4 linked regions of the Homo sapiens genome follow. The protein of the gene in region 1 binds, or shares a complex with, the protein of each later gene. Each region holds a gene or a part of one and is shown on either strand. Other genes may lie near its edges. The genes, in order: ARHGEF6, DAB2IP, DCP1A and PAK1.

Evidence for each region.
Region 2: ARHGEF6 (region 1) and DAB2IP share a complex: the UniProt entries of both Homo sapiens proteins name them as parts of the cytoplasmic complex.
Region 3: ARHGEF6 (region 1) and DCP1A share a complex: the UniProt entries of both Homo sapiens proteins name them as parts of the cytoplasmic complex.
Region 4: ARHGEF6 (region 1) and PAK1 share a complex: the UniProt entries of both Homo sapiens proteins name them as parts of the cytoplasmic complex.

Annotation. Positions count from the first base shown.
Region 1 is NC_000023.11:136,665,277-136,673,154, forward strand, and holds the end of ARHGEF6 (rho guanine nucleotide exchange factor 6), read right to left. Parts: intron 6,844-7,878; coding exon 6,744-6,843; intron 4,261-6,743; coding exon 4,206-4,260; intron 2,894-4,205; coding exon 2,753-2,893; 3' UTR 274-2,752; downstream 1-273. UniProt on the Homo sapiens protein: Acts as a RAC1 guanine nucleotide exchange factor (GEF).
Region 2 is NC_000009.12:121,758,756-121,766,633, reverse strand, and holds part of DAB2IP (disabled homolog 2-interacting protein), read right to left. Parts: intron 7,737-7,878; coding exon 7,638-7,736; intron 6,750-7,637; coding exon 6,195-6,749; intron 3,130-6,194; coding exon 2,985-3,129; intron 2,900-2,984; coding exon 2,755-2,899; intron 141-2,754; coding exon 1-140. UniProt on the Homo sapiens protein: Functions as a scaffold protein implicated in the regulation of a large spectrum of both general and specialized signaling pathways.
Region 3 is NC_000003.12:53,343,941-53,351,937, forward strand, and holds the start of DCP1A (mRNA-decapping enzyme 1A), read right to left. Parts: upstream 3,604-7,997; 5' UTR 3,578-3,603; coding exon 3,443-3,577; intron 1,003-3,442; coding exon 962-1,002; intron 1-961. UniProt on the Homo sapiens protein: Necessary for the degradation of mRNAs, both in normal mRNA turnover and in nonsense-mediated mRNA decay. Removes the 7-methyl guanine cap structure from mRNA molecules, yielding a 5'-phosphorylated mRNA fragment and 7m-GDP.
Region 4 is NC_000011.10:77,463,217-77,471,094, forward strand, and holds part of PAK1 (serine/threonine-protein kinase PAK 1), read right to left. Parts: intron 1-7,878. UniProt on the Homo sapiens protein: Protein kinase involved in intracellular signaling pathways downstream of integrins and receptor-type kinases that plays an important role in cytoskeleton dynamics, in cell adhesion, migration, proliferation, apoptosis, mitosis, and in vesicle-mediated transport processes.

The sequences.
Region 1 (7,878 bases):
AATATCAAAAAGCAGATGGTGAGCAGGGATATAATTTATAGGTTTGGGCCAGAAGAAGAGAGGTAGAGAAGTTAAGGAAGGTTCTGTCTCAGGGCATGTATTATCTCTGTAAAGTTGGGAGCAAATGTCATCTGCCCTGAGTGAAAAAGGTTGAGACTGGCTAGAGGGCTTGGTGAGAGCAGACTAGCTAATGAGGGAAATGGGAGAGGAAGCTGACACAGCACAAGAAATCTTTCTGCACACCGGCTAGCAAAAAAAGAAGCAAAAGACTTATTTTTATAAAGCACTGTTTATTTTTATGTATTGAAAATGTCCATTTTAAAAGTCTTCAAAATAAAAACAAGTTAGAAAATTTGAGCTTGTGTTAAGAAGGGGAAGGACAGAAAAGGAACTGAAAGGCCTCTACGGGCAGCAGTTTAATTACAGGGCAACAGGAACCCATTTATAGAGTATTGTAAACAACACAACTATGGCGACACTGCTCTCAGATTAACATGGCTTCATTTCCTTTATATTATAGTTTAGTGTGTAAGCATGGTTACCACTCTGCACAAGCTTCGTTATCCAGAGTACCGAGGGCCCCTCATCAGAAGGGCCAAGTCCCCGAAACATGCATATGTACTCATCACTGTAAAATGAAGACCTTTCAATATTTTCAGCAATCAACTAAAGTATTCCGTAATCACAAAAATGTTTCCTATAGATGCAGTTTGCACATTTATTGCAAGCCATTGACTAACCACAGAATGGGCAGATGTGAAGATCTGTGTTGATGTTGTTGGTGGTGGTGGTAGTACTGATGTTTTTAATTTTTAAGTGAAGGATGTTATATCTAAATGGCTGTGCTAAAAAACAGAACAACAGCCATTCCTAGAAATTTCTTTACTCTTCAGCTTCCAAACACGGCTGTGTGTGGTTGGCTGATGTTGGACTGCAAAAATAGTCCATTTCCTGTGGATGGTGTAATTTCTGCTGTGCAGCAAGCAGACAACAGCCCTGTACCATGTAGCTATGGGACCTTGAGACTCTCAGTACCAAAAATAAAAAGGGCTCCTCAGCAAGCTGGGGGTTTCAAACTTCAAGTTTTGTTTTTTCAGAGACAGAGGTGTCTCTCTGTTACCTAGGTTGGAGTGCAGTGGTGTCATCACAGCTCACTGCAGCCTTGACCTCCTGGGCTCAAATGATCCTCCCACCTCAGCCTCCTGAGTAGCTGGGACCACAGGTGTGGGCCACCATGCCTGGCTTCAAGTTTGGTTTTTAAACAATATTTGCAAAACCCACATTTATAGGCATCCATCAAATATATTATAAAGGCAATTCTGATCAGCCCTTTGGCCTCAATTTCCAGTGACCTTCCCCATCTGGCCAAATTTCTCTTGTCTTTTGGGGAGGGAGGGGTGAGTGGCACTGAGCCTTAGGCCAACTTTCAATGGCGCTGAATTTGGATGTGTGCTGTTCTGTGACTGTCTTCTAAACCTGGTTTCTCACAGTTCTAGTTTCTGGGATAAAGTGGATGATGTGATTCAATGAGCAACTTGAGTTAATCAGTCCTGAATAATCCAGCACACAGCTACTAGAGGGGCCCTTTTGTTCTGGATGTACAAGTTGGACCAGAAGCATATTTCTGCAAATACTGCTTAGAGTCCCACCCAAAGAGGCCAATTAATATTACAACTTCTCACAGCATATATGAGAGAGTAATAAAGTGAATGAAAGCTGTCTAGTAGGGCACAATATCTTCTTAATGCAGATTGTTTTGAAGGATAAAACATCACAGTTTGAATATGCAACGTACATAAAGTAACTCCTCACAGTCTAACTACATTTTTTTAAAAAGTAAGCAAAGCACATACATACTAGTTTACACACCACTTGGTAAGGTTGGCTAAAAGTACTGGGGAAATAGAAAACTTACACACTAGGCAGAATGAGGGAAAGAAACCTATCATGCAATGGGAAAAGGCGGTCAACTCTGCTACTAAAAGGGAGGATTGTCCAGTAGAATTTGCTGATGGATTTGGTGTTGGTGTGGGTGACCAGAGCTTCTGCCCCCCTGAGTTACAATTTACATGACACAAAAGGAATAAGGGTACTACAGTTTTCTTGGTCTTATAGACAACATAGGGCAGTAATTTTAAAACCTGTGATTGAGGGGAGGCATGTGATGGTCTAAGGAAGGGCAGCTGGATCATTGGGCAGATGTGTTTGTCTTTCATCCTACTCAAGCCATAGTCTGGAAGATTTGCCTTCGGTAAATTAAGTACTAAGAGGCTTGCAGGTACAGGAAAGCCCTGGGGAAAAGTTGGGTTCACATTTAATAAGCCTTGGCCAGCTGCTTTGCAAGGGCAGCCAGCCCAAAGAATGTGACCTGAGGGCAATGGCTGTTGCAGAGGCACTGTGAACTGAAGGCAATCTGAAGACCTTTTAAGTAACTGGCCTGCATTCCCTTTCTCTTTCTTACTGAATGGAAAAGACTCTGAGGCCATCTCTACCACCACTTCCTGCTTTTTCACCTGTTGAAAAAAAAAATGAACAACCAACCAATAACCAAACAACAGCAAATGCCCAAGCGCGCACGTGCACGCACACACATATGCACACAGCGGGGAGAGAAAGAGAAGAGAGAGGGAGAGAGAGAGAGAGACTCAAACACAAAACAAAAGCCAAAGAAGTGAGCAAACTGAGTCAAATCATTCAGCGGGACATTTCAAGATGCCCTGAAGGCACACTCCACCCAGTGGCACAGTGATGGTTATGGAAGAATTGAGGTCTTGCTACTGGACTCGCCTCGAATACACTCATCTGTTTGCTTCAAAAGCCTCCGCACCAGCTTTTCTAGGTCCCTTCTTGATTTCAGTTCTTCTTCCAGGCATTGCTTCATTCTTTTATTTTCCTATGATGGGGAAAGATTTGTTGATTATCAAACAGAGGGGGGCCCTTCCAAGGGCTCCTCCTGCTCATCCTCGGGGCAGCTTTCATCACTGACTCTCTTTCTTTCCTCGACCTTCCCTCCCTCAGCATCTATGACAAAGCAGCCTGTCGATTCTCCTGCCTGTCTCTGGGAAACCTTTTGGATTCTTCTTCCCTGCCCTGATCCTCTTCTAATTTAACTTGCTTTTCACTTAGTGTCACTTCTGTTTCAACCCAAGTGTCTATTAAGGGGACTCCCAAATATCTCTGGTACTGACCTTGTCTCCTGAGAATCGGGTCCACAATCTCAACTGTCAGCCTGGTATTTCTTCTTCTTCTTCTTCTTCTTATTATTATTATTATTATTATTATTTTATTTAAGAGATGGGGTCTCACTCTATTGCCAGGCTGGAGTGCAGTGTAATCATGGCTCACTGCAGCCTCAAACTCCCGGGCTTAAGTGATCCTCTCACTTACCTGAGATTACCTGGCAGCAGCTTGGTATTTCCACCTAGATATGTCACAAGCACCTTAAACTCATCAGGTCCTAAAGTGAACTCAGTATCTCTCTCAACACCCCAAACTTCTCCTCCTCCTGTGATTACTGATCTCCATGAAGGGGCACCACCATATGCAACCAGACACCCTGGGAAGAAGCTTCATCTTTAATCCCTGGCTCTTTCTTAATCTCAAAATCATATTATCCTCGTCCATAGGTTCAAACTCTGCAGTATGCCATCCTTTACATTCGTTTCCTCCTCCCCAGCCTCATTACCCTGCCTCAGTTCAGGACTCTGACAGGTTTCACCCTGAGTTTTGTAAGAACCTCCTAAGTGGTCTTCTAGTCCCTGGTCTCTCTCCCCTCGCATCCATCCTTCACTCTGTCACCAGATACAGTCAGTCCTCACACACAAGGCACAGTGTGCATCACGGAGCACTAGGCCACATCGGCAGAAAAGCCCACAAACCATGATGAATGGTTCTCTTTACACTTACACACTCATGAATGACTAGTCTTTTCTTAAAGTCTGTTTATGGATGTCAGAGAACAGGAAAGTTGTAACTAACTTTGGGACTCTATTGTGAACTACTACATAGAAATACAAGCAAGCCTCGGAAATTTAAATTCAAGGCTTACATGATAAAATCAACAAAACCTACCTTGATGACACAAGGAAAACAAAAATCCCCCCTCGCTACCTTGCTCCTAGGCCTTCCCTGAAAGCATGAGCAGCGTGAGGCAAGAAAAAGAGAATGGTTCTATTACCCGAGAAAATGATTTTATATTTTATTACCTGCTTCAGTTCTCTGACCTCGTCCTTCAAGGCGTAAACAGTATCAACAAGGCTCCTAGAAAATAAAGATAAAATTCAGAGACAAATGGCTTGCACTGAGGTACTGTTAAAATACTTAACAATAAAAGCCACTTTATAAAAATACAGATCCTGAAAAACAGTGGACTTTCTAGCTGATTGGGAATGGTACTGCTCTAAATGGTTTCCATCTTCTTGACTTTGATGGAAGAACAACCACCACCACACATGCTTAGCTAAATGCAATGTCATTACACCTTTTCTATACTTCCCTCCTCCTTTTCTACTCACTTCCCAGCTTGGGTGAACAAAACACAAGAGACTAGGGCCCGTCACTAAGTTTTTCTTTTTCTAGCTTTGTTGAGGGATAATTGACAAAGCTGTACAATGTGATGTCTTGATATATGTATACATTGTGAAGTGGTTACCATAATCAAGCTAATTAACATATCCATCTCCTCACATAGTTACCTTTTGTATGTGTGTGGTGGAAATCTACACTCTTAGCAAACTTCAAGTATACTCCATTGTAAACTATGCAGTCTTCCCTCCCTCGGTATCCATGGGGTATTGGTTCAAGGACCCCCATGGATACCAAAATCCACAGATGCTCAAGTCCTTAACATAAAATGGCATAGTATTTGCATATAACCAATGCACATCTTCCCATACACTTTAAATCATATCTAGATTACTTATCATACCTAATACAATGTAAATGCTATGCAAATATTTGTTATACCATATTTCTTAGGAAAAAACAATATGGTATAACAGTGCATACATATATCAAGACATCACATTGTACACCTTTGTCAATTATCCCTCAACAAAGGCGGAAAAAGAAAAACTTTACTAGGTATGAAAAAAATCTGTACATGTTCAATACAGATGCAACCATCCATTTTTTTCTGAATATCTTTTTGATCTGGGGTTGGTTGAATCCACAGATGCAGAGCCCACGCATGCAGAGGGCCAACTGTAGTCAACATGCTGTACATTAGTTCTCCAGAACTTATTCATCCTGCATACCTGAGATTTGGTACCCTTTGACCAACATCTCCCCATTTCCCCTTTCCCCTCAGTCCCTAGAAACTACCATTCTGCTCTCTGTTTTTAGGAGTTCGACGTTTTCAATTCCCGTCATAAGGTTTTGATTTCTCTAGCTTTGGGGCAGGAATGAACATCACCTATCATATAATGAGAGGTATCACAAGATTGCCTAGTCTACAGTATCTGTGCTATGACATTGCCCTTCCCAGTTCTCTGACTGCACATGACACAAAGTCAGAGGCATTCTTTCTGGAATATCTCAACCATACAGTACCCAAAAAAGTAATTTTTTGGTAATTACTGGGTTGCAGAACAGCCTTTTCCTCTCTGGGTCTCTCCCTGGACAAAGATTTTGGAGATCTAAGTTTTGGTTCTGATCCTGCCACTTACTAGTCCTCTGTTCTCTGGGAACCAGTTTCCTTCTCATCCTCTCTTGGTCTTAGTTTCTTTACATGTAAAATGGGGATAATAGCACATTTTCTGAAAACCTCACAAAGTTGTAAAAATGAATATCGTTATAATAAGAATTAACTAACATTATTTATTGAGCTAGCCTTTATACTTATTTCACTTAACCTCACAACAACTCTGAAAGCATTACCGTCATCCTTATTTTACAGATGAGGAAACTGAGGCACAGAGAGGTGAAGCAACTTGCCCCAGGTCACACAGCTAATGAGTAGCAGAAGTGGGAGTTGAACCACACTGTTTTTTGCTTGAGCCCAAGTACTTAACCATTTTGCTGTATCACTTCACACATCAGATGTAAAATGCATTGACAATGCCAAGCACCTTGAAATATGCTGTCCTATGCAAATTTAGGCCTGACTTCAGAAATGACTCAAGTTTAGACAAATGAATTATTTGGCTACTTTGTGTTAATTTTATGAGCCAGAAGGTACTTAACCTGATTTTCCCCCATTAGGTCACCCACACTACTGTGTAAAGGTAAGTCAGAGACATAATTTCCCTGAACTTCCTGTACCTCAGTTTCTTTATCTGTGAAAGTGGTGAGAGTAATGTTTATCTAACCGGATTGCTGTAGGATTTTAAATGATGTCAAAAATGTGAAAGCACAGCTTCTGACTCAAAACATGTGAGTGGCATCTCTCCGGGCAAGGAAATTGGTTCTGTGGCTGGAATTCCCAGCCACTTCCTAAACCCATCCAGGGCATTGATATTCCCATGTGCTCAGAAGCAGCTTACTGGATGGGGAGCTGGCTGCAGGGGCAGCTGCCAGCTGGAGCTGCCTTGGAGGGCTCTGTCACCGCTGCTTTTCCTTCCTCTTTCCATTTGTTAGTGGGCAGCCCTCTAAAGTCTCCCAAATGCATGCACAGCAAAGCAGGCCGCATTCCCAGGTAAGGAGGAGTTGTCCCTCATCATAGACTCTCCAGGAGCTCCCCGTCCTACCAGACCTTCTTGCCAGCCCCAAGAGAAACTAGGCAAGGTTTTGCCTGCTCTACTCACTTTTCTTCCATGATGGTCTGGCCGTTGCTTCTGGTTTCTTCAATGATGAGTTTCTCTTCCTCAGGGAGTAGGACTTGTGGAATGGAATCTTTTCGAGTACCTACAAACAAGGGTTGCAAGATGGGGGAGGAGGGAGAGTTACTAGTGAAGAGTAGAAATAGTGGGTGTTAGTTCTTTTCCACTATTGTTACAGAAGGGTCTTTGTTCATAGCATGTTGCTACATTACACCCAGAGGACAGTCACCCATCATTTGCTGACTAAATTTTCCTGACATGAGAAATTCTAAATGGCCAAATACACTGATTCAATCTTCCCGAGGTGGGAAGCATTTTGTATTCAGAAAAATAATGCAAAAGAGCCCCTGTAATACCTGTCCACAACCAAGACCTCCATTCTTTCCTGTTTTGCCTCCTCCAGAGCAAAGAGCTGACCAGTGATCACTCTTCCCTGCAAATCTCCAAGGAAGGACACACTACATCCTATGCTACAGTGTTTTGTCATTGTAGTAAAAGGTTGACAGTAGCACTGCACTGAAACACAATGTGCTTAAAGGGCCTCAGAAGCATCATCACCCCCATTTGTTCTCTTTACAGTCTTATAGGGTAAGGTAGGTATGTCTCCTAAGACCATTTTCATCAAGGGTGGAGTGAGGTTTGGAGATTATCACATCATCAGCAAAGATGTAGGTGTCCTCTGCCCAGAATGTCTCCAGGCTCTGGGACAGAAGAGGTGACAGAACAGGCATGGGGGCCCAACCAAACAGCTCTCCTGCACCTCCCTCACTCTGGATCCTCCCTCTCAGAGCTCAAGTGCTTAATCTTGGGTCTCCCTGAGCCACTGGCTTCCTCTCTTCTAGGCCAAGTTCCTTCAGAGGTGTGCACACTCACTGCCTTCACTTGACCACCTCCCCTTTCTTGAGGTAAGATGTGTCTCTGCCTTCTCCAGGGCCTAGCACTTTGTAGGTGCTTAATACAGGTGGCCCCCCATATCCACATGTTTCACATCTGTGGATTCAACCAACCGTGCATTGAAAATGTTCAGAAAAAACAAAAAACAATACAAATTTAAAACCCAATGCAGTATAACAACTATTTACACAGCATTTACATTTATGAGGTATGATAAGCAATCTAG
Region 2 (7,878 bases), on another chromosome or scaffold:
AGGGCGACATGATGGCTGGGCAGAGGAAGCGCAGGAAGAGGGAGGCGCTGATGAGCCGCTCACTGATGTCCGGGCGGCCGCGACTGCTGCACTCCTGCCTCCACGAGGCAAACACCTCTTTCAACTCCCGTGGGAAGACACTGTGTAGGGACAGACAAAGGTGGGCTTGGCTGTCAGGCAGGGGCCCAGGACAGGAGTGCACAGAGCAGGAACCTGCATTCCAACCTTGGCTCTACCCCGCCAGCTGCGTGAGGTCAGCCCCGCTGTCTGAGCTCTGAGGACACAGCCATCTGGGGAGAGCAGTCAATACAGGGTGGCTGGAGCAAGTGCCCAGGCAGGAGGAGGAGCAGGGAGACCCAGGCTCCCATCGGGCAGTGGGTTCTCAGTGAAGGGCCGGGCAGGTGGGATGGGAGGAGGCATGAGGAGCTGGCTCTCCGTCCTAACCGGAATTAACTGCCAAGGGCCAGTGCTGAACCACCTCTCCAGCTTCTGGTCTGGGCCCTCCCCACCTCTCTGCCAGTGTCTACTTCATTTTTCAACCCAAACAGCAGGCATCTGGGTCTAGGGGGAAGTGAGGAAAACAGGAATAGACCACTATTCCTTGGGTTCCCATCACTGGCTTTGAGACTAATTTCCTTTGCTTGAATAATGTCACAGGAATCCAGGATTTCCTAAAAGCTCAGAAAGATCAAGAAGATGGGACTACCCCTGAACACGGTGGGACAACACAGCTCTCCATTCTCTACATGGGGAGGGAAAGGGAGGTAGTGACTGCCCCAGGGTGATGGAGCAAGCCGGCAGAGCTGGCCCTAGACAATGGGGCTCCTGGTTCCACTGGGCATCCTGGCCTGCCATGGTCAGGCCCACCTGGCCAACCCTTAAGTGGGTTTCCTATCTTTTTTCCCTAAAAGATGCATCTCCCAGCCTGGGGCAGGCCAGGCCCCAGTGGTCCGTGAACTCAGTCTACACTTGGCTCTGCCATGAGCTCAGGGTGATCTGACCAAGGCCCTAGCCCTCCTGGAAGGCTTGGGTTTTCTCTCCCCTAAACTGAGAGCAAGGCCTGCCCTGCCAAGCTCACAGAGCCATCGTAAGGCTAAAACCCCAAGGCTACAACAGGCTTGACCAACTTGAAATTTCTTCCCCCACAGGCCCAGCAGCCTGCTCAGCAGGCTCTCCTGCAATGCATGCTGGCTGACCCATCAAGGGCACACCTAGCGGGGAATGAAGGTGAGCCACCTTTAGCCGTGGCTCTCACAGTGCCTGGCACAGAACTGGACAGGGGGCAGGTGTTGAGTGGTGACATCTATCAATGGCCTTGTCCAGAATGGAGAGGTGCCTCTGATAAATGCCAGAAAGAGGAAATGGAAAATCACTGTCCACAAATATGTTTTCCCTGAGTCACATGCCCAGCCCCCCTGGAAGAGGGGGAGGGGGAAAGCACAGCCCAGCTGGGAATGGGAAGTGTGTTCCCAGAGTTCAAGGCCCTACAGTCGCTCTCCTCCACCGGCCCAGGGGTGTGGAAAGCTGCACATTTGTGGCCCATCTTGAGGTGCCCATTTGGCCCAGGCAAGCACCTTGTATAGCCCAGGGGCTAAGGCCCTGGGTGCCAACCCTCCTGGCCTGCCCATTCCCCCTGCCTTTTCTTGTCCTTGGGGAGCAGCAAACACTTCTCTGGCCTTCCTGTGTGCCCAGTCCTGAGGTGGTGGGCTCACCTGCCCCCAGGGTGCCCCAGCATTCACAGGAAATGTTTTAGGCACAGGCACAACCCTATCCTGATGGGATCAGGGCTGCGACAGAGGGTACCAGGTGTGGCCTCGGAGCAGGAAGGGCAGGAGTGTATGCAGGGGAAGGTGCAGGTGAGTGAAAGAGATGAACCTAACAAGGAGTGAGGTAAGGCCGGGGAGAGAGTGGTGTCAGAACAGGCTGTGGACGGAGGCTTGGGTGGGTGGGGGCTGTAAGCCCTGAGCTGGAGGGGGACACAGGTTAAACCTGGGCAGCTCCTCTGGGGTGAATATGAACCCACTGCTTGGGCTGACAGCAAGGCCCTCCCGCACAGTCCTGTGTGCCACCACAGAACGAGGCTATACTCGGCACCAGGCTGGCTGGCCATCACACACATATATCCCAGGAGCAAGCTGGTGGCCGTGAAGTCGGCCTTACCGCAAGTTTCTCCGGGACTGATTCCGGTCCTGCTGAGGGGCCTGTCTAAGCAGCCCACTGCTGCATGCCCTGCTGCTTTCTGGGGCTGGCAGAGTCTGCAGACCCCGTTCTACTTCAAAGTCTAGTCCTTTCTGTTTATTCTCTAGTCCCAGCAAGAGGCCTGCCTGGTGCTCAGGCCCCCAACGTGCCCCTGCTTGGCCCCATCACAAGGCTGTGACATGAGCACCTTAGCTCCCACGGACAGGTGAGGAGCCTCAGGTGAAGCCATCCGCCCACCCCAAGTGGGGGCCCACACAGGGCCTGCCAGTCTCACTCCCGCTGCAGCCCAAGCACCCACAATAGCCCCCGGCACATGAAGGGCGCTCCCTCATCACCAGAGACGGCAGACTGGCGTGTCCAGGTTCTTTCCATCACAAAACCACAGCAACATGCTGAACGCTGCCCCACCTGAGAGCTCAAAAGGGACTAGGCCAGGGGACTGGCAAGTCAGTACAACTCAGGGGCCAGGCAGCATCAGGCACACTGCGGGTGCCAGACACTGAAGGACAGGATGGGGAAGGCGACAGGGTGGGGAGACCTGGGCACCGCACTGACCAGTAGGAGTTGATGATCTTGCAGAAGGCCAGCTCGCAGCACATCTTGAGGTTGCCCTGGTGCTCTGGGAGGTCAGCGGCCGAGCACTTGCTGGGATCCACTTCGCAGTTCTCATCTGACTCATACAGCGCTTTGATGAACTCACCTATGGACAAGTGGGCAGGGAGTGGGGAGTGAGGACCTGGCGGGCCCTGCCCCACCCTCTGCCCTGCTGCTGGCCCACTCCCTACCTAGGGCGTCCTGCAGGTACTTCTGGCCCACTAGCTTGAGGTACTCCTCAATGGCCTTGGTGGCCAGTGTGTTCTCCCGGAAGATGAGGTGCTCGTTGTCCCCGCAGCGGTCCACCTCTGACATCATCAGGTCTGTCAGGAAGTCCTGGGGAGGCAGGAGGTGGAGAGAGCAGGACCTGAGCTGGCCTGGCATGGAGGGCCCTAGGATTCCAGACCTAGCCAGAGAAGTCCTGGCATTTTGAGGCTGTTCCATCACCAAGCTGCGGGGGTCCCGGAGAGGAACAGTGTGCCCACCTTTGGGGGCTGCTGGGGAGTGTGGGCAGGGCAGGGGCCCCCAGCCAGGGTAGGAGCCTAGAACTGGTGACAGTAGAGCCGGGTCTATGGATGGAGGCAGCCTGAATGAGAGCATGCCACGTGGAGCCACAAGCCCCCACCACCACAGAGAATGGACTCATTTCCATGTACAGCCCTGATCAGGCCTGGCCTGGTGACCACAGCAGGACTCGCCTCTCCCCGCACCATCAGTGCCAAAGAGGACAAATGAGGCTGCCCTGTCTCATGGTAAGAATGGCCATCAGTATCCACCTATGACTCTGGTGGGGGCTCCCACACCAGACACAGATGCCTTCTGTGCAGCCCCACTGCCCGGGGAGGTCGTGAGCCACCATGCTCAGGCAGGTGAGAGCAGGAAGTGATGTGCAACTGGCTGGAGAGGGAAGGTGGAGGCGCCACTGCCCACCTGGCAATCCAGGGTAGCAGCCCCAGGCCCATCAGGTCCCACACACAGTGTTGTGGGAAAACCCCAGCACAGGAGCCCGAACCCACACCTTCCCCCTACTCTAGCAACCATGCAGATACTAACACCCTCCCTCAGAAGCCCCCACCTCCTTGTGCTCACAACTAACCTGTGGCTTGGGGGAGGGGAAGAAAATAGGAAAAACTGTCATAGTTTCAAGGGAGGGTGACAGTCAGGGCAGGGGGCCACCTAGCACAGAGCCTGCAAGGTGCCCAGGAGGGGTGGACCCAGGCATCTGTGCTCAAGAAATTCCTCACTCCGACATGCACGACCTTGGGGTCCTTTAAAACAGAACTGAGATCTAGACACAGGAACCCAGGGTGCACAGCAGAGGCACAGAGGGACAGCAGGGGCAAAGGGGAAGCTGTCATTGGCTTCCTGGGGATCATGTGGCCTGAGGACCCCTTCCTGACCAGCAGGCGACCTCCAGGGTCTCATTCTCTGAATACACTAAAGCGGGGGTCAGAGGTGCATCTCCCCCGGGGCTCCTCCAGGGCTCCCGCTCAGGACTGCAGCCTTCCTGAACTCCCGCAATGAGAGCCAGGCCCCAGTGCTGGGATGAGAACTTCCTGAGAGCCAGGACCCAATAAGGGGGAAACCAATGCACACACAGCAGGAAAATGACTTGTCCAAGGCCACACAGCCACCTGGGGCCAGATCTGGTCCAAGTCCCTTGCTTCCCAGACTCCGTTACTCCTCTAGCCGTGGAGACGGAAGAGGGGCTAGTTCCCAAGTATTCCAGGGGTGGGGGCTTAGGTACCTGTCACCCCAGCAGCACAAGTTACTTTCTATGCTTCTATCTACTGCTCCCCAATCCCACTGAGGGCCTTTGGGGTTGGCTGCAGCCCTGACTTCACCTCCCTCCACGAGCACCTGGACATACCTATCATTTCAGGCTGCTTCAGGGAGGAATCCGCTTCCCAGGCCAGCCCCAGCCCAGCCCTGGGAACCAGGTACTGAAACATCAGACACAACTGCAGAAAATAATGCAGCCTCTGCAGCCCCCATCACTCCCTCTCTGGTGCCCATGGGTCCTTGATTCATTCCGTTTCCCAGCATACGTCCCCAGTGTTGACCAGCATGTTAAGGACGGGGCAGCCAGAGCTGGCCCAACGTGCAGCCTAGCCAGCCAAGTCTGAAGGCTGGGGGAGAAGGTGAGGGAGGAGGTAGCTGAGCACTACAGAGGAAAACTGCTCCCCATCGCGGGTCCATGGGGAGGAGGTCCCCGCCCCAGCCCTGCACTTGCAGCATACAGCAAGTGCAAGAGGGAGGGGGGCTGCAGAGGCTGCTGAGGCTTCCAGCCATGGCCTCCCCTTCCAGGGCCTCTAGGAACAGGTGAGAGGGTGAGGGACCTCCACGAGTCTTGTGCCCTGGACTCTGCCCTGGGGTATGGCTCCCAACTGTGCCTCCCCGACCCAGAGCTAAGGGCCTAGGACCTTGACACAGGGTGCCCCTCAGCCACCTGCCACTTGGCTCACAACACGCCACTGTCCAGAGGGCAGAGGCCCAGTCCTTAGCCCAGCACCAGGGTCCATCCACGCTGCAGAGGCCTCAAGTCCAGCCCCTTTTTCCCACCCTCTTTGGCCAGCTTCCTGAATGGCAGGTGGCAAATGTAAAGAGAGAAGGTCGCCTTCGAGGCCCACAGACCATGCTCTACTGCCTTCCTAGGGGCACCCTGGTCCAGGAGCCCATTTGTCCCCAAACCGGGTAGGTGGGGCTGAGGCACGGCTTGCATGGTGGGCTGCTGGGCCCATCTTCGGGAGCGGAAGGTGAAAGGGGTCATGGAGATGGACATTGAGCACCTCTGGCCCTGAACTAGGACTTGCCTGGGTGGGTCTCAGACGATTCCCGCTTCTGTGAGGCTCTGGGGTGGGGCTGGCTAACCCTCGAATAGTACAATTTTGACTGTGTCTACCTGTGTGACAATCTGTGTGTCTGGGTGAGAGTGTGGGGTGAGGTAGAGCTGTGAGGGAGGCTCATCTGTGCATCGTGCTGGGGAGGTCTGCCGAACTCCATACCCCACAGGGGACGTGTGTTTGGCTCACTGCGGCTGGTGGCGTTGTGGGACCTGTGTGCTGGGAGAGCCGTGGCCACCCAGCCTGTTCCCCTGGCGCCTCAGGGGGTCGGTCCTCTGCAGCAGTGGTGGAAGGCACCTCAACCCAAGCCCACTCCCTCACTACCAGCTGCAATCCCATCCACTGGCTCCACACAGGCCTCAGTGATCAGCTCCAGCCACAGAGCAGGAGTACAAAACCCCCAGCCCACGATAGAACTTTTGGGTTTAGGGAGCCCTTCTGGTAGTGACCGGTGCCTCCAAGGCCTCTGTTAGGCCTGAAATGTACGGATGTGAGGAAGGGCAGGTAACCCAGTGCTGCCGCCCAGCCTGTGTCAGGAGCCGAGGGGCCTGCACGCACCTTCACCTTGCCCGTGCTCTGCAGGATGTGCACCAGGGCAGATGCCATCTCCTCCTTGGTCTTGGCACTGAGGATGGGCTCGAGGGCTGCACACAGCCCCAGGTAGTGGTTGGTGATGTGCTCAGCGAACTCTTTGTACATCTCCATGGGCAGGATGGTGATGGTTTGGTAGCGCGCCTTGATGCGGATCATGGGTCCAGGGCCCTTGCCGCCCTTGGGGTTGGGCGTCACCACCGGGTACCACTTCTCCACGAACTGCCGCCCGGCCACCGAGGCAGCAGGTAGGCTCACCAGGCCCAGGTAACTGTTGCGCTCCTTCTTCTTCTTCTTGTCGGTCTCCCGGTACAGGTGGACAGTGACCGTGCGCAGAGGCGGCAAGTTGTGGAACTCGAAGTGCTCGCCCCAGAAAACATTGTCCGTCTTGAGCTTGCCCGTGGTGCGGGCATAGAGCACATCGTCCAGGCACAGCTCGCACAGGTACTTCTTCTTGGCTGGCAGGTCCTTGGCCTCGATCACCCACAGCTTCAGGATGTGCTCCACACGCCGGCTGTTGTCCTGTATGTGCACGGGGGTCCAGGGTGGTCAGCTGGGGGTGCCACGTGCAACCCCCAACCAGCCCAGAGCCTGAGAGAGTCCTCAGACCCAGGAGGAGCTCTGAAGGTGGAGGCGGCAGCGGGCGCCTAGGCCCTAAGTCAGGATGAGGCAGGGCATGATGGACAAGGGCTGGATCTCTGGTCGACCTCACAGAAGCTCACTCACCTTGGGCAAGCAACTTAACTGGAGCCTTGGGTTGCTTGTCTATGAAACGGCACTAAGGTAAAACCCCCATCTCATAGAGGGCGAGACTGAGAGAGGCCAGCACAACGCCTGACACGTCACAGGCTATGCCATTATTAACTCTTCCTTAATATGCTGGTCTGTACTGTAACTTAAGAGATGGCTATGGTGACCAGGACTTGGTCAAGCCCTCAAGTCGGCTAGGGAGACAGATACAGAAGCAGGGATTACAGTGGGGGCTCCCAGGACCTAATGGGGGAGCCCAGGGGCAGTGGGAACACAGAGGGCACCAGCCTGGGACAGGGGTCCTCACCTGGAGGAGGGGCAGACATCTAAGGTGGAAGGGGAAGATGAGCAGAACTCAGCCAGGGGCTGGGGAGTAGGGACAAGGGGTCCCAGCAGAAGGACCCCAGGGTCCAGCACTCATTTCCCCAAGCCCAGCCTCAATGTGTAGCTTAGAAAACAGAGGCACACAGCACCTGTCTCAACCTGGTCAACTCAAACGTCTCTTTCAGAGTCCACCAATATTGTCCACTCGGGCCCTGCCTCCATGCAGGCTGACCACCCCCAATCCCAGCCCACACCACAGAGATAGTCTCTCTTGTTTCCTCCTATCTGAGCCTACCTTCAATCCCCCATGCTTTGGTGAGAGGGGCGCAGGCTTACCTTGTTGGGATGCACCGCTCGCCGGAGGTTCTCCATCCACTTATCCCGCTCAGCTGCAGACCGGCAGGAAAAGCACTTGCTTCCTGATGACGTCGTCACCTGTGGGGAGCAGGCAAGACAGTGTTATGAGGGAAGGGACCACAGCAAGGGCAGGCAGTGATGGAAGAAGACCTTGGAGGCTCAGGGGACTCTGGCCATCAGGTCTGCATCACAGCTTCAGGAAGGAGCCAGGACAAGGCTC
Region 3 (7,997 bases), on another chromosome or scaffold:
AATAGCAGGGAACAAAGAAAGTGTCTAAGAAAAAAGAGCTTGGTGTACAAATATCAAAGAATTACACTTAAAAGAAGAAAAAAATGAGTGCATTTAGACGAGATCTCAAAGCTTTGTATCAAAATTTAGAAGAGTATTTGACAAATTCTTTTAAATTGGCATCAATGGAGAAAGGCAATCCTTATGAAGCAACTCAATACAAAAAAAAAAGGGAAAAGACCAGATATCAGTAATAACTCCTGCTGACTCCCTAAGCTTTAGAAAACAAGGGAAGGAACCTGCCCTTGTAAGAGTTAAGACCTTAGAGGAATCCAGGAAAACAAGTACCCCATGACTATCATATACTGTCAGTTGTCTTTAGGCCCCAAAAGCTGCCTAACAAAAAAGTTGCAATTTGCAAACCAATCTTAAAGATAATGAATTTTTGAATAAGTCAAAAATAAAAAATACGCCATCATGAATAATCCAAGCTTTCTAAAGAACTCTCAAATAAGACACTGTACATAATCCAGAACTTCTGTGGGTTGGGAAAGAGGACAGAACCAGTCATAAAAGACAACCACTCATGTAGTAATGAAAGAACAGAGGGATCGACCTCTCAATAACATTATTTTACAGAGCCAGTCTATGTATTGTCTTTTCCCCAAATATATATCTTTCTTTTTCTTTCTAATATGGGGGTAGGAAGAGAGACGCAGGCATCCATTTTAGACTCAATCATTATTATTTTGAAATTGCTTTGCTAGGCTGGTAATATAAATTCTAGTTCAGTTTATTCTGAATCACAGAAAGGCTCAGAGAAAAGAAAGAACCTGGTTAAGATTTCACAGCTAGGGAAAGATGAAAACTTGAAGGGTACTAGCAGGACGGTTCCAAAGACAAATGTACAAGAGAATTGAACCGTTTCACATTGTTCACCACTAGACTGTTAAAAACAAATATACATATTTTAAAAACTTACCTTCGATATACGAATAAGGTCCCTTCTATATCAGTCTTCTCCTATGAAAGACAATGACTCAATTAGTTTTTTTTCCCCATAATCAGACCCCAAATAGTCCCCATGGAGAAGTAATGCTTCACGTTTAAGATCAACTTGTTTCATTTCATCTATTATAAAATTAACCACTTTTGAACAGGTAAAGTCTCCCTCTCATTCCACAAATTGTGGTTACCATTTCTAATGTATCCTTTCAGTGCATAAGCATATGCAATATTTAATCCAGCAACATATCTGTATCTGCAGTATTTTTCTTTTTTAATTAGTAAAGGAGAAAATCATAGAATAAACCTTCACTTTTTATAGCTAAAATATTTTAGCCAGATTTCTTAACTTTAAAGCTAAGGTCCTGTATACTGCAATTTCTTCTCTTTTAAGTTTATCCAAGTTAATTTTAAAAAAGGAAAGGAATGAAACTTTCTTATAGGATACTTTGTTTCATCACTAGGGAGTTTTCGTACATTTTGACAACTAGCAAATTTTGTGGTTAAGAATTACTACCAAACAAAATCAGCTTGTTATTTTTAGAACTTGAAGAATCTTGAATACTGAAAGTATACCCTGCCTCAGTGTAATTATTGGAGGCCTTTACCATAGTTCATTTTCTGTGACAAGAGTGTATTTAGGTTTTAAACACAGTTCAGTGTTTTTTAAAAAATAAATAAGCTTATTAGTCTGCAATTTACAGCCTACAATGGACCTAAATATTTTACTGTAATCAACGCATTATTAACATTTTAAATGTTAGTCATATATTGAATGTGTTGGGATTAAAAAATTTAGAAAATTGATCATCTCGATTTCTTCCAGAAGTACTACCCTAGCTTAAATATCATTATTTTCCTTCCTAAGGATTCAGAGGCTTTTTCTTACCTTTAAAATGTTAGGTTATTACTATAAGAAACTGGTAATCAACTGTCTTACAGTAAAAGAAAATTTGCCCACCAAAAAACATCATGCAAAGTTACAACTCACTGTAAAATAATAAAGAGGGAAAAGATTTTTGTCATGCTCTATGTGCCAGGATCCAAATAAACAGTAGCAGCTTATTTTTCAATTCAGGTTATTATAGCTTGTATTTCATATTTAAAACAGAACTCCACAATGTAAAATTTTAAAATATTGAAAGCCTTTGTGAAAAACTAGGAAAACTCTAGCCCCAAGTCTTCACCATTTGTCGGCAATCCATATTTCAAAATTTATATATAGGCCAAGAAAAGAAAAAAGATTCATAAAATTTCAAACTAAGGCAATGTCTAAAATAGCTACATTTAAAAAACAATCTACAATTTTATTCCTTGTGGCTTCCCATATCTCCTTCTCTTCCAGGAGGCAAAGATAAACAACGTGATTATAAAAACTCTTCATCTGAATTAACTGTTCATAAATGCCAAATGATTTTCGATAAATTACTGATAAATATAATCTATGCAACTGTATTATAGGGTAAACGACATACTACGGTCATCTTCCAGAGTTCTGTCAGTTTAAGGATTTCGTATCTTATTGAAATGTGAACTCCAGTCATTGGTGAATTCAATCCAACAAGCATTTACGTATTACTTTCTAAGTGTAAAGCCTGTAGCTGAATGAGTTAATTAGGAAGGGTCAATTACAAGAAAGTGGGAAATTATGCTTTTTAAACAACTAACAAAGCTTCAAGCAGGGGCTAACAAGAATCAGTGAACACACTGAATGTGACTTTTCGGACCCTCCCCAGTGCACGAAAGCCAGAAAGTACTGAGTCCGAGGGGAGCATTCAGAGATGACATCACCAGCATCATAGATGGAACAAAACACATTTACAGGGTCTCTCTTGTTTGTACAAAGGTCTTCGGGGATCCAGTGAACACGGAAGCCCTTTTCCTAAGTGCCTTGGAATCTTTTCCGAAACTCTGTGTAGTTCGATTAAAGCCGGACCCACCCACCCCCTCCTTCCAAGAATCGAAACTAATTGGATTTTAAACTTTAAACCCAAATGACCTCTGCGACAGGGGCTCTCATTTACGTTTGCCAGGGGGAGAGGAGGAGTGTTTATTTTATAGATAATGTACATATAATTTATCTAATAATCCGCAAAGCCTCAAACACAAGCTTTCAGGCACCCTTTTGACCCCACCGGTCTTATAACTCCCAATGTATCTGCAAAGAAGGCAGGTCGCCCACGTCCCCAGACCCGACGCCAAGGGACTGATCCTGCTCCAATCCTCCCCTCCACTGGCTTTTCCTTGGGATGTCTCGAGCCACTTCTCTCACTCCTATCCCCCAATCCCAAGCGGACCCGACACCCCTCAGGCTCTGGCTAGGCTCTTGGCCAGACCCTGGCCTCGTCTCCACCGCCCTGGCCTCTTAGTGTGCCCCCCCACCCCACAGTAACCCGCGCGGCCCCTTTAAGAGACGGCAGCGGCCGGGTGGCCGTCCTCAGGGCCAGGCGGCACTCACCCACTGGTTGGCCTTGGGGCAGAAGGTGTACAGAGCGACCTGGCCCGTGAGGTCTGCGATGCTGGTGATATAGGGGTCGTGTTGCTTCAGGGCCGCTAGGCTCATCTCCTGCCCAGCTCGACTCAGCGCCTCCATCTTGAATCCCAGAGCCTAGCCCCTCTGGTGGGGGCGGAGTCGCGGACAGGAAAGTGCCATCGAGGCAAAATTCCCCCATCTGCGTCAGTCCCCTCAACTTCCGCCTCTACGCGGGCCTCGCGGCAGGGCGGTACGTCAGCCATTCTGGTCCGCCGCGCGCACGCTCCGGGCGCCGGGTTCCGGCGTTGTCAGGGTCCGCGGCCCTACGATGTGGGCGGTGTCCAAGGCTGCGTAGTGGAGCTTGCAGGCTGGAGCTCCGGCGCTTCCTTTCCCTGAGCTAAAACGACTGGGTCCTGGGATCTGGCCTCTAGCTCGCCTGCCGAGCTCTTTCCAGGCAAAGGTTGGAGACCGCCGAAGTGCCGGCCTCGCGGTGCGCTGTCTGGCAGGGCCCGGGGCCACAGAAGGAAAACATGTCTGTGGAATGTGGAAATGCGGGACTCTACCGGGCCCGTTTAGAGAGCACAGAAAAACATGGGGGAAAGGGAGAGGCGAGAAGCCCAGAAAATTACCCTAGGTCTCAGATATGGATGTGTCGACCTAAAAGGAAGAAGACTCTGGGGCAAAATAAATGCAAGCAGAGAGTTTATTTGGGCCAAGCTTGAGGATTGCACCCCAGGAGCATAGATTCAAGTTGCCTTGAATATATACACTGATTAGCAGAAGGTACAAGTGGATTTTTTTTCTTTTTTTTTGAGACGGAGTTTCACTCTTGTCGCCCAGGCTGAAGTGCAGTGGCGCGATCTCGACTCACTGCAACCTCCGCCTCCAAGGTTCAAGCGATTCTCCTGTCTCAGCGTCCCCAGTAGCTGGGATTACATGGGCGCGCCACCATGCCCTGATAATTTTTGTGTTTATAGTAGAGACGGGGTTTCGCCATGTTGGCCAGGCTAGTCTCGAACTCCTGACCTCAGGCGATCCACCCGCCTCTGCCTCCCAAAGTGCTGAGATTACAGGCTTGAGCCACCGCGCCCGGCCCTTTTCTTTTTTTCTTTTTGAAACGGAGTCTCGCTCTTTTGCCCAGGCAGGAGTGCCGTGGCACAATCTCAAGCTCACTGCAACCTCTGCCTCCAGGGTTCAAGCGATTCTCCTGCCTCAGCCTCCCAATTAGGTGGGATTACAGGCGCCCGCCACCACACCTGGCTAATTTTTTCTTTTTCTTTTTCTTTTTTTTGAAATGGAGTTTCGCTCTGTCGCCCAGACTGGAGTGCCGTGGCGCGATCTCAGCTCACTGCAACTTCTGCCTCCTGGGTTCAAGCGATTCTCCTGCGTCAGCCTCCAGAGTAGCCGGGATTACGGGCGCCCGCCACCACGCCCAGCTAATTTTTGTATTTTTTTTAGTAGTGACGAGGTTTCACCACATTGGCCAGGCTGGTTTTGAACTCCTGACCTCAGGTGATCTGCCCTCCTTGGCCTCCCAAAGTGCTGGGATTACAGGCGTGAGCCACTGCGTCTGACCCACATAAATATTTTTGTCCAGCCCTGGGAAGAGTCCATGAAGGGTTTAATTTGTCTTGCTTCATTTAAAGCATTAAGCAGATCACTCATTTCATTGGTAAGTGTCTGTTGAGCATTTTAAAGCGTTTGAAAGAGTTAGGCACTAGCTAACAAGTAAAACAAATCATGGAGACTATAGGGAGTTCTATCCCCGCCAGACTTCTTAAAAAGCAACATTTCTTTCGTTAAAAAGGTCATGGAGGCTGGGCGTGGTGGCTCATGCCTGTAATCCCAGCACTTTGGGAGGCTAAGGTGGGAAGACCGCCTGAGGTCAGGAGTTTGAGACCAGCCTGGACAATATGGTGAAACCCCGTCTCTACTAAAAATACAAAAATTAGCCGGGCGTGGTGGCGCACGCCTATAGTCCCAGCTGCTTGGGAGGCTGAGACAGGAGAATCACTTGAACCCGGGAGGCGGAGGTTGCAGTGAGCCAAGGTGGTGCCATTGCACTCCAGCCTGGGCGACAGAGCAAGACTCAAAAAAAAAAAAAAAAAAAGGGTATGGTAGCTAGATGTGTGGGCTCACGCCTGTAATCCTAACACTCTGGAAGGCCGAGGAAGGTGGACCACTTGAGGTCAGGAGTTGGAGACCAGCCTGGCCAACATGGTGAAACCCCATCTATACTAAAAATACAAAAATTAGCTGGGCGTGGTGGCACATGCCTGTAATCTCAGCTACTCAAGAGGCTGAGGCATGAGAATAGCTTGAACCCAGGAGACGGAGGTTGCAGTGACACAAGATTGCACCACTACACTCCAGAGCTTGGGCAACAGAGGGAGAAATTCCATCCAAAAAAAAAAAGGGGGGGGCATGGTGGCATGTAACTGTAGTCCCAGCTATTTGGTAGGCTGAGGTGGGGATCACTTGAGGTCAGGAGTTCAAGACCAGCCTGAGCAACATAGCAAGACTACGTCTGGAAAGAAAAAAAAATTGACATCCCCAACAGAATTGAAAATTTTTGTAAGATAAAACCATATTTTCAAGAAAATAACACTAAATATTTGTATTGCCTATGATTTTATATCCCAGGACCACTGTTTTTTGTCATTGTGTTGATGAGAAGAGTCAAACTCTGTAAAATAGTTGAAGAAATTTATTCTGATCCAACTATGAGTGACCATAGCCCTTGACATAGCTCTCAGGAGATCCTGAGAACATGTGCCCAAGGTGATTGGGGCACAGCTTGGTTTTATACATTTTTGGGAGAGATGAGACATCAAATACATTTCAGGTGTATATTGGTTCTGTCCAGAAAGGTGAAACAACTTGAATTGTGTGCCAGCACACCTGGCTAATTAAAACTTTTTTTTTTTTTTTTTTTTTTTTTTTTTAGAAATGGGGTCTGGCTCTATTGCCCAGGCTGGTCTCAAACTCCTGGCCTCAACCAATCCTCTGGCCTGGGTCTCCCAAAGTGTCCCTGATAAAATGAGTTTTTTCCCCACTGTGTATCAGTCACAAACAAAGAATATCCCATTGAAAAAGGCAATCAGGTTTTATTCATTTGCCAGGGAATGGAGAAGGTGAGCTCTTCCTCTGAAAGCATCTTTTCTTGAAGAATAAAAGGCAAGGGGTTTATTGCCTTTATTCCTATGGGGCAGGAAAGGAATGTTAGTATGTGCAGGGTGGGACTCCAGACACGCAGGCCCAATTCATAAACATGCATCTTCATATATCATATGTACACAAAATGGCAGAGATTTTCTTTTAGGGAAGGGAAATTAGCATTATAATGATATGTTCATGATCTAAAGGCACCCAGGGTTTGCCAGTTCCCATTTGCGCTGGTTTTATGGTGTCTTATCTTCCTCTGGCATCTGGTCAGGGGTCAAGAAGCTCTGGCGCCATCTGGTTTCTTTAAGCAGCAGTGTCTATAGATAAAGGGACCAAAGAAAAACAATAAGAAAAAGGAACTTTCCCAGTTATTTTGTCAGGGCTGTCCTGGTTAACAAAAATGCTGAGATTACAGGCTTGAGCCACCGTGCCCAGCCCCCCTGTTTGTTAATGTAAAGAGAAATTTAGATTCTTTGCAGAATCATGTAAACATGTACAAATGTGGACAAAGACACAGATATCATTCATTCACTCTTAAGTCAGTATTTATTGAACTCCTAATTGTGAGCTGGTGGCCCCTTGGGAGCATCTCACTCTGTTTAAGACATTCCTGGCTCTGAGGGAAAAAAGAAAGTAGGACAGTGCAAGGAAACAGGGATGATGCTAGAGACATTTCTCTTTGAAATCCAGAGGACAGAGCCGCTAACTTAACTGGCTGGGAAAGTCTAGGAGGGCTTCCTGAAGGAGATGATGTTCAAATTGGTGTTCTAGGGATGACTGGGAGTTCAGGGGAAAAAAGTAAGGCCTCTGGTTCATTTCACAGCTCAGTGGTGAGGTAGAGAAGATGTCGTCACCCTCATTTGACAGATGATTTAATTGAGACCTGTGGGGAGAATTCACTGGCTCAAAATTCCACACTAGTCACAGAGGATCCAGTATTAGAATCTAGGGACTCCTATCTTCTACCCTGGGATCCTTTCCTACACGCCCCAGATGCCTTTCTTCCTTCCAGTGGCTGGAGGTAAGAGCCCTATTCCTCTCTACTTACCTTCAATCTGTTTTAAAAATCCGCACCCTAATTTTTAAAAATCTGCACTTTAATGTTTAAAAAACATACATTCATCTGGTACAAAATTCAAAAGGCACACCTGAAACTTAGTTTTTTTTCTTACATAGATTTCCTAAAATAATCGAAGACATTTCATTTTAATTTACTATTTTTGATTGAGCAGGGCTAGCCTATTAAAGAACACCAAGTTATTTTAGGGAATTTTCATATTTGGAATAGAAAATTACTCTGGGCCGGGTGCGGTGGCTCATGCCTATAATCCCAGAACTTTGGGAGGCTGAGGTGCGCGGATCACAAAGTCAGGAG
Region 4 (7,878 bases), on another chromosome or scaffold:
TATTTTGAAATGCTTCAAAATAAGACAGGTTAATGAATGGATCAAGGGATACACAGACATGCGATAAAGAAAACACAGCAAAATACCACAGAATCTAAATAATGGGTATATGGGTGTTCACTGCACATACTCCCCTGCCAATGTTTTATTTAAAAAAAATTTTTAACGTACATAAAATTAAAGAAATATAGTATAAAATGAAACAGTTTCAAGAAGAGTCAGCCTACAGGAAAATTTTTATGAAAAATTCAGTCTTTGAGAGGGTCCACCTACCACAGATAGCCAGAGGCAGTCTCAAGACCACTTGGAAACTTGTATTAATCAATTTATTCTTCATCAATATTTATTTACTTGTTTGTTTTAGCTAACAATGAAATAGAGCATTCTACTCCCAAGATACTATGCTAAAAGTGCTTGTTCATCTCCTCATTCTAGCACTCTAGAGAGGAGAAGAGAGACTTTGGCAATTACTGTCTCCATCTATAAAATCAGACTTGATAATCCCCTCTCAGTCCCTTCGGATTAACTAGGATATTACACAGGGTAGCGTTTTGAAAGGTCTCTTCCTCCCACTCCAACTTCATCTCATACCATTTACTCTTGCTTCCTATACAACAGCCATAATTTTTTTTAGTTCCTCTATGTTGAGGTAAACCAGCATTATCCAACTGAAAGATACGGTTAGCCTTAAAGAAAAGCCACATATGTAATCTCAAATTTTCTAGTAGCCATATTTTAAAGTTTGTAAAGAGGTGAAATTAATTTTAAAATACATTTAACCCAATATATTCAAAATATTAACAATTCAACATATAACCAATATAAAAAGTTAATGAGTTATTTTACATTATTTTTTCAGTATTGTCTTCAAACTCTGGTATGTATTTTATTTACACTTACAGTGCATCTCTATGTGAATCAGTCAGTGTGCTCAACAGCCACACTGGCTAAGTAGCTACCATATTGAGCAGCACATCTCTAAACTTTTACCTACTCTCAGGGCCTTTGTGCATTTAAAATGTTCCCTCTGCCTGACATGCTTTTTCCCCCTCAGTGTTCTGCATGACTAAAATCTATTTATCATGCACATCTCAGTTTAAAAGCATCATTTCCTCAATGAGGTCTTTTCCTTATCACTCCAAAATTCTCTACATTAGTCCTTTATCTCTTTTGTAGGACTTATCAAAATCTGCAACTGTCCACTTGTATATCTACTTACTTTTCTCTGTATTACCCTCTGGAATGTAATCTTTGTAAGAGCAAGGACAAGGACCATGTCTGTATTATTTATGAGTGTATCCTTAGTACTAAGTACAATGCTTGGCACACAGGAAGAAATCAATAAATATGTGTAGTCTAATTAAGGAATAAATAGAAGCACTATAGAGCTGTACAGATGCTCCTTGACTTATGATTAGGTTACGACCTGATAAACCCAACTTACACTGAAATACTTTAAGTCAAAAATGCATTTAATACACCTAACATACCAAACATCGTAGCTCAGCCTACCCAACCTTAAACATACTCAGAACACTTACGTTCACCTACAGTTATGCAAAATCATCTAACACAGAGTCTATTTTTTAATAAAGTGATGAATATCTCATGTAATTTATTCAATACTGCACTGAAAGTGATTGGATGGGTATTCCAAGTATGGTTTCTACTGAATGCATATTGCTTTTACACCATCATAAAGTCGAAAAATCATTAAGTTGAACCCCTGTAAGTCAGGGACCAGCTGTATTGGATTGGTACATACATGAAAGAGTGTGTGTGTGTGTGTGTGTGTGTCTGTGTGTGTGTCTGTGTGTGTGTGAAGAATATACTCAGCAGCCATTCCTAACTGTCCTGGAACCTTTACCACATAGTCAACTAAGTCAATTATCCGGCAAGTGGCAATGGATAGTAAAAAAACGATTTTTTGAAAGAGTTAGAGGGAACTATAAATATATTTTACCATTCTCCTAGGAACCTACAATTTTTTAAAAAGTGCCACTGGTCAGGGCAGCACCCAAATGATCAGGAACAGGTGACCAGATTTGGAGACAGAAAATATGAATTAAAGATTCCAGTTTGTAACTTCCCAGCTACATAATCATGCCACTTAACTTCTGTTCATTTATAAAAATATGATGGCTAAAGAACAGAATTAAGTTAAATGAGACTCTATATAAAAGGGTTTTGAAAACAGTAAAGCACAAAAATTATATATATAATCCTATATATAATCTCTAGAAAGTCCAGGAAACTTGGACTTTTCAAGTCTATCACAATGGGCTTTCTCATTTTGCTCACCTGGTTCTTTATTTTTTTTTAAGTTACTTTACAAATTACATATGTAATTTATTAAATTAAGCAAAATCTATCCTGGATACCAAAAAAATCTCAGACTCTGGACTGGTGAGATAATTCCATATGAGAAAATAAGTGGGAGGGAATGTTATAAAATAGTAATTCTTGGCCGGGCAAAGTGGCTCATGCCTGTAATTCCAGCACGTTGGGAGGCTGAGGCGGGCAGTTCACTTGAGTCCAGCCTGGGCAACACGGCAAAACCCTGTCTCTACAAAAAATACAAAAATTAGCTGGGCTTAGTAGCATGCCCCTGTGGTCCCAGCTACTCGGAGACTAAAGTGAGACGATTGCTTGAGCCCGGGAGGGCAGCACTGCAGTGAGCTATGATGGAGCTACTGTACTCCAACCTGGATGACAGAGCAAGACCCTGTCTCAAAAAAATAAATAAATAAAATATTAATAGTAATTCTCTAACAGGTAATTGGAGAACCAAGAGCCCCTCCAACTATACCAAGTCCCTCTTTACCCATCCCCAAAACTGGCAATTTACATTTTGTTCCTGTAGCCCATTGGGAACTATTTCCATAGTGAAATACTGTTACTGATGGACTACATCCCAGTGTATCACAGAGAAAGGGTGAGGGCAGGGAGTAGGTGAGAAGGTTAAGAATCACTGTCGAAATATTCAAGCAAAGAAGTTGGCATCAAATTCAACACATTTATATGACAGCTAAGGAAAACTGAGTCTCAGGACGGTTAAGTGACTTGCTGTGGTTACACAGTAATAATTTTTAAAAATGTCTTCAAGGCCGGGCGAGGTGGCTCACGCCTGTAATCCCAGCACTTTGGGAGGCAGAAGCGGGCAGATCACAAGGTCAGGAGATTGAGACCATCCTGGCTAACACGGTGAAACCCTGTCTCTACTAAAAATACAAAAAATTAGCCGGGCATGGTGGCACGCACCTGTGGTCCCAGCTACTTGGGAGGCTGAGGCAGGGGAATGGCGTGAACCCGGGAGGCAGAGCTTGCGGTGAGCCGACATCGCATCACTGCACTCCAGCCTGGGCGACAGAGCAAGACTCCATCTCAAAAAAAAAAAAAAGTCTTCAAATGACAGCTTGATGTCTCTGCTCCTAAATTTCCTCATCTGTAAAATGAGTTAGCCAACATCAGTCTAGCACATTACAGCTTCCAAATTGTTGTGCATATATCCACAGAGCTTACCTGATTCCCTACCACACCGCAAAAGTCTAAGACGGCTATGGTGTAATAGAAAAAGCATGATGAACTAAACAATCATAAGAACCTGGCTTCAGATCTTAGCTGTGCTGTATAGCCTCAGCAAGTCAATTAACCTCTTTGTGTTTTCTTCTATCAAATGAATATAAAACAACACCTGTCCTAGCTAACCCAGGGGATTGTCCAAAGAATAAAGTCAGATAATATCAGTAAAAGTATTTTGTACATTATACAAAAGGCCCTTCATCATCTGGGCCCTGCCTCCTCTCTGCTCTCACGCCTCCCCACTTTACACCCTATCTTCTAAGCATACTAAACTACACAGGGCTCCCCAAACAGGCTCTCAAATCTTCTGCTCACATATTGCTCTCTCTTTCAAGAGGGTCCATCATCTCCCCTTTCTTCTCACCCCTCCCTGACTGTGCTTCGTTAACCCCTGATCATTTTTCAGAACCCATCTTAGATGTCACCTCCTTTAAGAATGCTTGCCAGGCCACCCCCATTTCAAGTGCAGCAGATGCCCTTCCTCTGTGTTCACATGGCACTTGCACTTATCTCCATATTTTTGTCATTTTTTGTCTCAATGTAGTGTAATTGTCTATGCACATGTCTGTTTCTCCCGGAAACTATAAACCCAAGGGTAGAGGCTATGATTCATCTGTTTATTCAGAACCTATGACAATGCCTGATGCATAATATGTATTTAGCAAATGAATGAACTTTAAATGGCAATAAAATATTACTTTTCATATAATACTTACATAAGACATTTATGCAAAACATTGTTAATATAAGGCAGTGCTTCTCAACTTTGCATATCAGAATCACCTATAAACCTTTCAAAATAGAGATGCCAAGGCAACTCTTTACATCTTCACAAGTAATTCAAGTGCATAGCCGAAATTAAAACCACTGCTACACACAATCATAGTCATAAAATTACAAACTACTCTACCTAACATCTATATAGCTCAGTATCTTACAATTCACTTTTACATATATTATTAATCTTCACAAGAATTCTGTAAGTTAGGTATTATTTCTTTCAAATGAACAAATAGAGATTTAAATAAGTGTCCAAGTAGCTCTTTGTCTAACTTCAAATTTTGTGCTCTTCCTTAAACCCTCCCTTGGTAAGTGCAGTAATACACAAATCAAGGGTTCCACCAGTGAGGAAGACATCAATCTTAGCTTTGTGGGAATCCAGGAGGAAATAAGGAAAGCTGGACCTTAAAGATATAGGCAGGCAGATGAGGGTGGAAGCCATGCATATACTGTCATTGTCATTTGCCATCCCAAAAGATTCAAAAGGCAGATTCTATAAATTAGAAAATGCTCTTGCCAGCCTCAGTTAGTACTTAACAGTCTGAAAGGGAAAGGGATATTGGAGAAGGCTGGAAGTAGAAAAGTAATAAAAGAAAGCAGCCCATAAACAAGAATGGATTTCCCAATCCTGCATGCAAATTACCTAACTCTGACTCCAGGAACAAAAGCCAAGACATAATGGACTTAAGAATTAGATGAATTCTACAGTCAATCAATACCACGAAAACTCATGAGGGATGAATGAACCTCTGGTTCTTTCTAGACTTACTACTACACTATTCCTCAAGAAGGGATAATCCGGAGAAGCCTAGCATATACATGACTTTCCCCATCTCAAAAACTAAAAGAATGGGAGAGAAGAGGAAGATATTCATGAAAGAAAAGGCTTACAAAAAGGGTAGAAAAATGTAGCACATTAAGTTAATAAATTTACGATGGCACAGGGAAATATTCAGGCACAAGTGATTCCAAATACTGGATAAAGCCTGATCTGGCAGCTTCAGTAAAGAGGTATTATCTTCTAAGTCTGCAACATCATGACCATCTGACATAGAGTTTTATCAGCAATTATCCTTTCTAGTTCAAACTGTGGACTTCAGTCAGGGTTTTCTTAGGGAGAAGAAGCTAAAGAGATTAGGAACCAATTTAAAAGAATGTGTCTAGTGCCCCAAAATTTAGTTTGATAGAGTTTAAAAGGCAATATGTTATAGTGGCAAAGTAAAGTACTACACTTAGAATTTTAAAATGTGGTTTAAAATCAATATTCAGGCATTCATTAATGATGTGCCTCTGAGCAAGCCAAGACTTCTATTAATATGATCCTCAGCCTGCTAACTCGTAAAATGGGAATACCTATCTCATAGGGCTGTTACGAAGATTGAACAAAATAACATCCAGGAAAGATGTTATTTTTCCTGTATGAATGATAAATGTAAACGAATGTAAATCTGTCTTCACCAAGCCTTCTAATACACACACAAAAAAAACATACCAAATGGAAACTTTAACTCTCACTGCAATATATTTACTTGCAAAACATTCCTATATCCTCTGTGCAGAAACATTAAAAGCAGCCTCTGTACTGAAAATAGCACATAGCTGCTGGAGTCAGGTGCACATGGACTAGAATTGTTGGTCTGCCACTTACTTGCAGCAAAACCTTAAATAAGCTCCCTTTACTAGTATGACTCTCAGGTTTCCTCACCTATGATACAGAGATACCAGCAATCATCTCATAAGGTTATTCTGAGGGTTAAAAAGAACATGTTAAACATCTCATATAGGGCCTGGTACAGAACAGGTATTCAGTAACATAAGCCATTTTTAGTAAGCTTACCACCACCTAACAACTAACAAGCAAATTATACTTTTCAAAGATTCCTTTATAGTCATTATTTTAATTGCTTCATGATCCTGTAAACTAGTCGTAGCAACTATTACTATCCCCATTTTACAGTTGGGACAAAACACAGAGATAAAAATTACTTCTACAAGGTCATGCAGTAACATAGACACTAAAGAAGGTCTCCTAACTTTTCCAGGGTTTCATTTTCACCCACTACAAATTACAACATTACCCCTTAGAAATTAAAACATCTGTGAAGAGACTTTTTTTTTTTTTTTAATAATGGGCATAGAAAATGACCCAGAAGGAGCAAACACTGGTGTGGGAGAATGTTTTTAAATTTTTTATTTTCAAGTTTGAATATACTGACTATTAATTTTGAATCAATGCATTTTTCCTTTTATTTTTAGTTGATATGTAATAATTGTACATATTTATGATATTTTGAGATGTATATAATTCGTAATAATCAAATCAGGATAATTAGCATATTCATCACTCCAAACATTTATCATTTCTTTATCATAAACAGTCAAAAGCCTCGTTTTTAGATGCATATTGTTTATCGCTTTTCAAAAATAAACAATAAACTGTAGTGAGATGTATTCTTTTGATAACCTTAAACTTGTCTCTTTACTATGCCAAAAAGAAATATTTTTCTCCCACTTTCTGGTTATTATTTAGAAAAATAACATGGAGAGGGATCAGAAAATTCATTAAAACCAGCAACAACAGAATTAATGTCTCAAATTGGCAACTGCTGATTCCACCTTGATTTTTGTTTTAGTTTTCCCCAACAAAGCCCATGACCTCTTAAAATTTTTTAAAAGTCTGCCTGTCAAAATGATGCTTGTTTGACAAATTATTCCTAAACTGAGGGAAACAAATAGAAAGGCAGCTTTCTCCCCCCCTTTATGATCATATACCACCTTTTTTCATCCCTCTATTTCATCTCTTCATTTCAGCACTTATCATGTCATATTATCTCTAGCTCCTTAAAGACTTGGGCTGCACTCTTGTATATAGCTGAACATCCTGCCCAGCACAGGGTCTGGCACATGGTGGAGAAGGACTCATAATTTTATAGTAAACGGATGAATAATTGAAGCCACTCTCCCAGAAGGAAGCTAGGAAAGGAGAAAACTGGGCATGGTATCTTAGGGCTAATAAGAAAGTGAAAGAAACAAAGCATTTTAAGAGCTTGACAAGGAAGAGAAACCTTTGTGTGGAGTCAAACAGGCCCTATATAGCTTTAAGTATCACCAGAGAAAGACAAAAACCACAGGAGACCAGGAAGAGACAGTTTTAAGTTAAAAGACTCAAAAGTTAAGAGTGCTTATTTAGACTTGCAAAACCAACTTGCAAATTCAAAAGAAACAATCCTGGCTTGGAATATTGCAACAGCAGTTTTCAGGTGGTGGTTAAAACAAACAAACGAACAAAAGACTAGGCTAAAAATTCTTGCAGGCTTTGGTTGGAGACACATAAAGGGAAAAGCTCAACCTAAAATGAATCCCCCAAAAATGTTAGGATCCCCTTGGATTTGCACATTGGACCATGATTCCTATTCATTCTGAGAACGGTTCTTGAGTAAAACCCCAATGTCGCAGCTGGCAATACATAGAATTAAATCATCTTACATTATTCATTCAACAAATACTTGAGTGCCT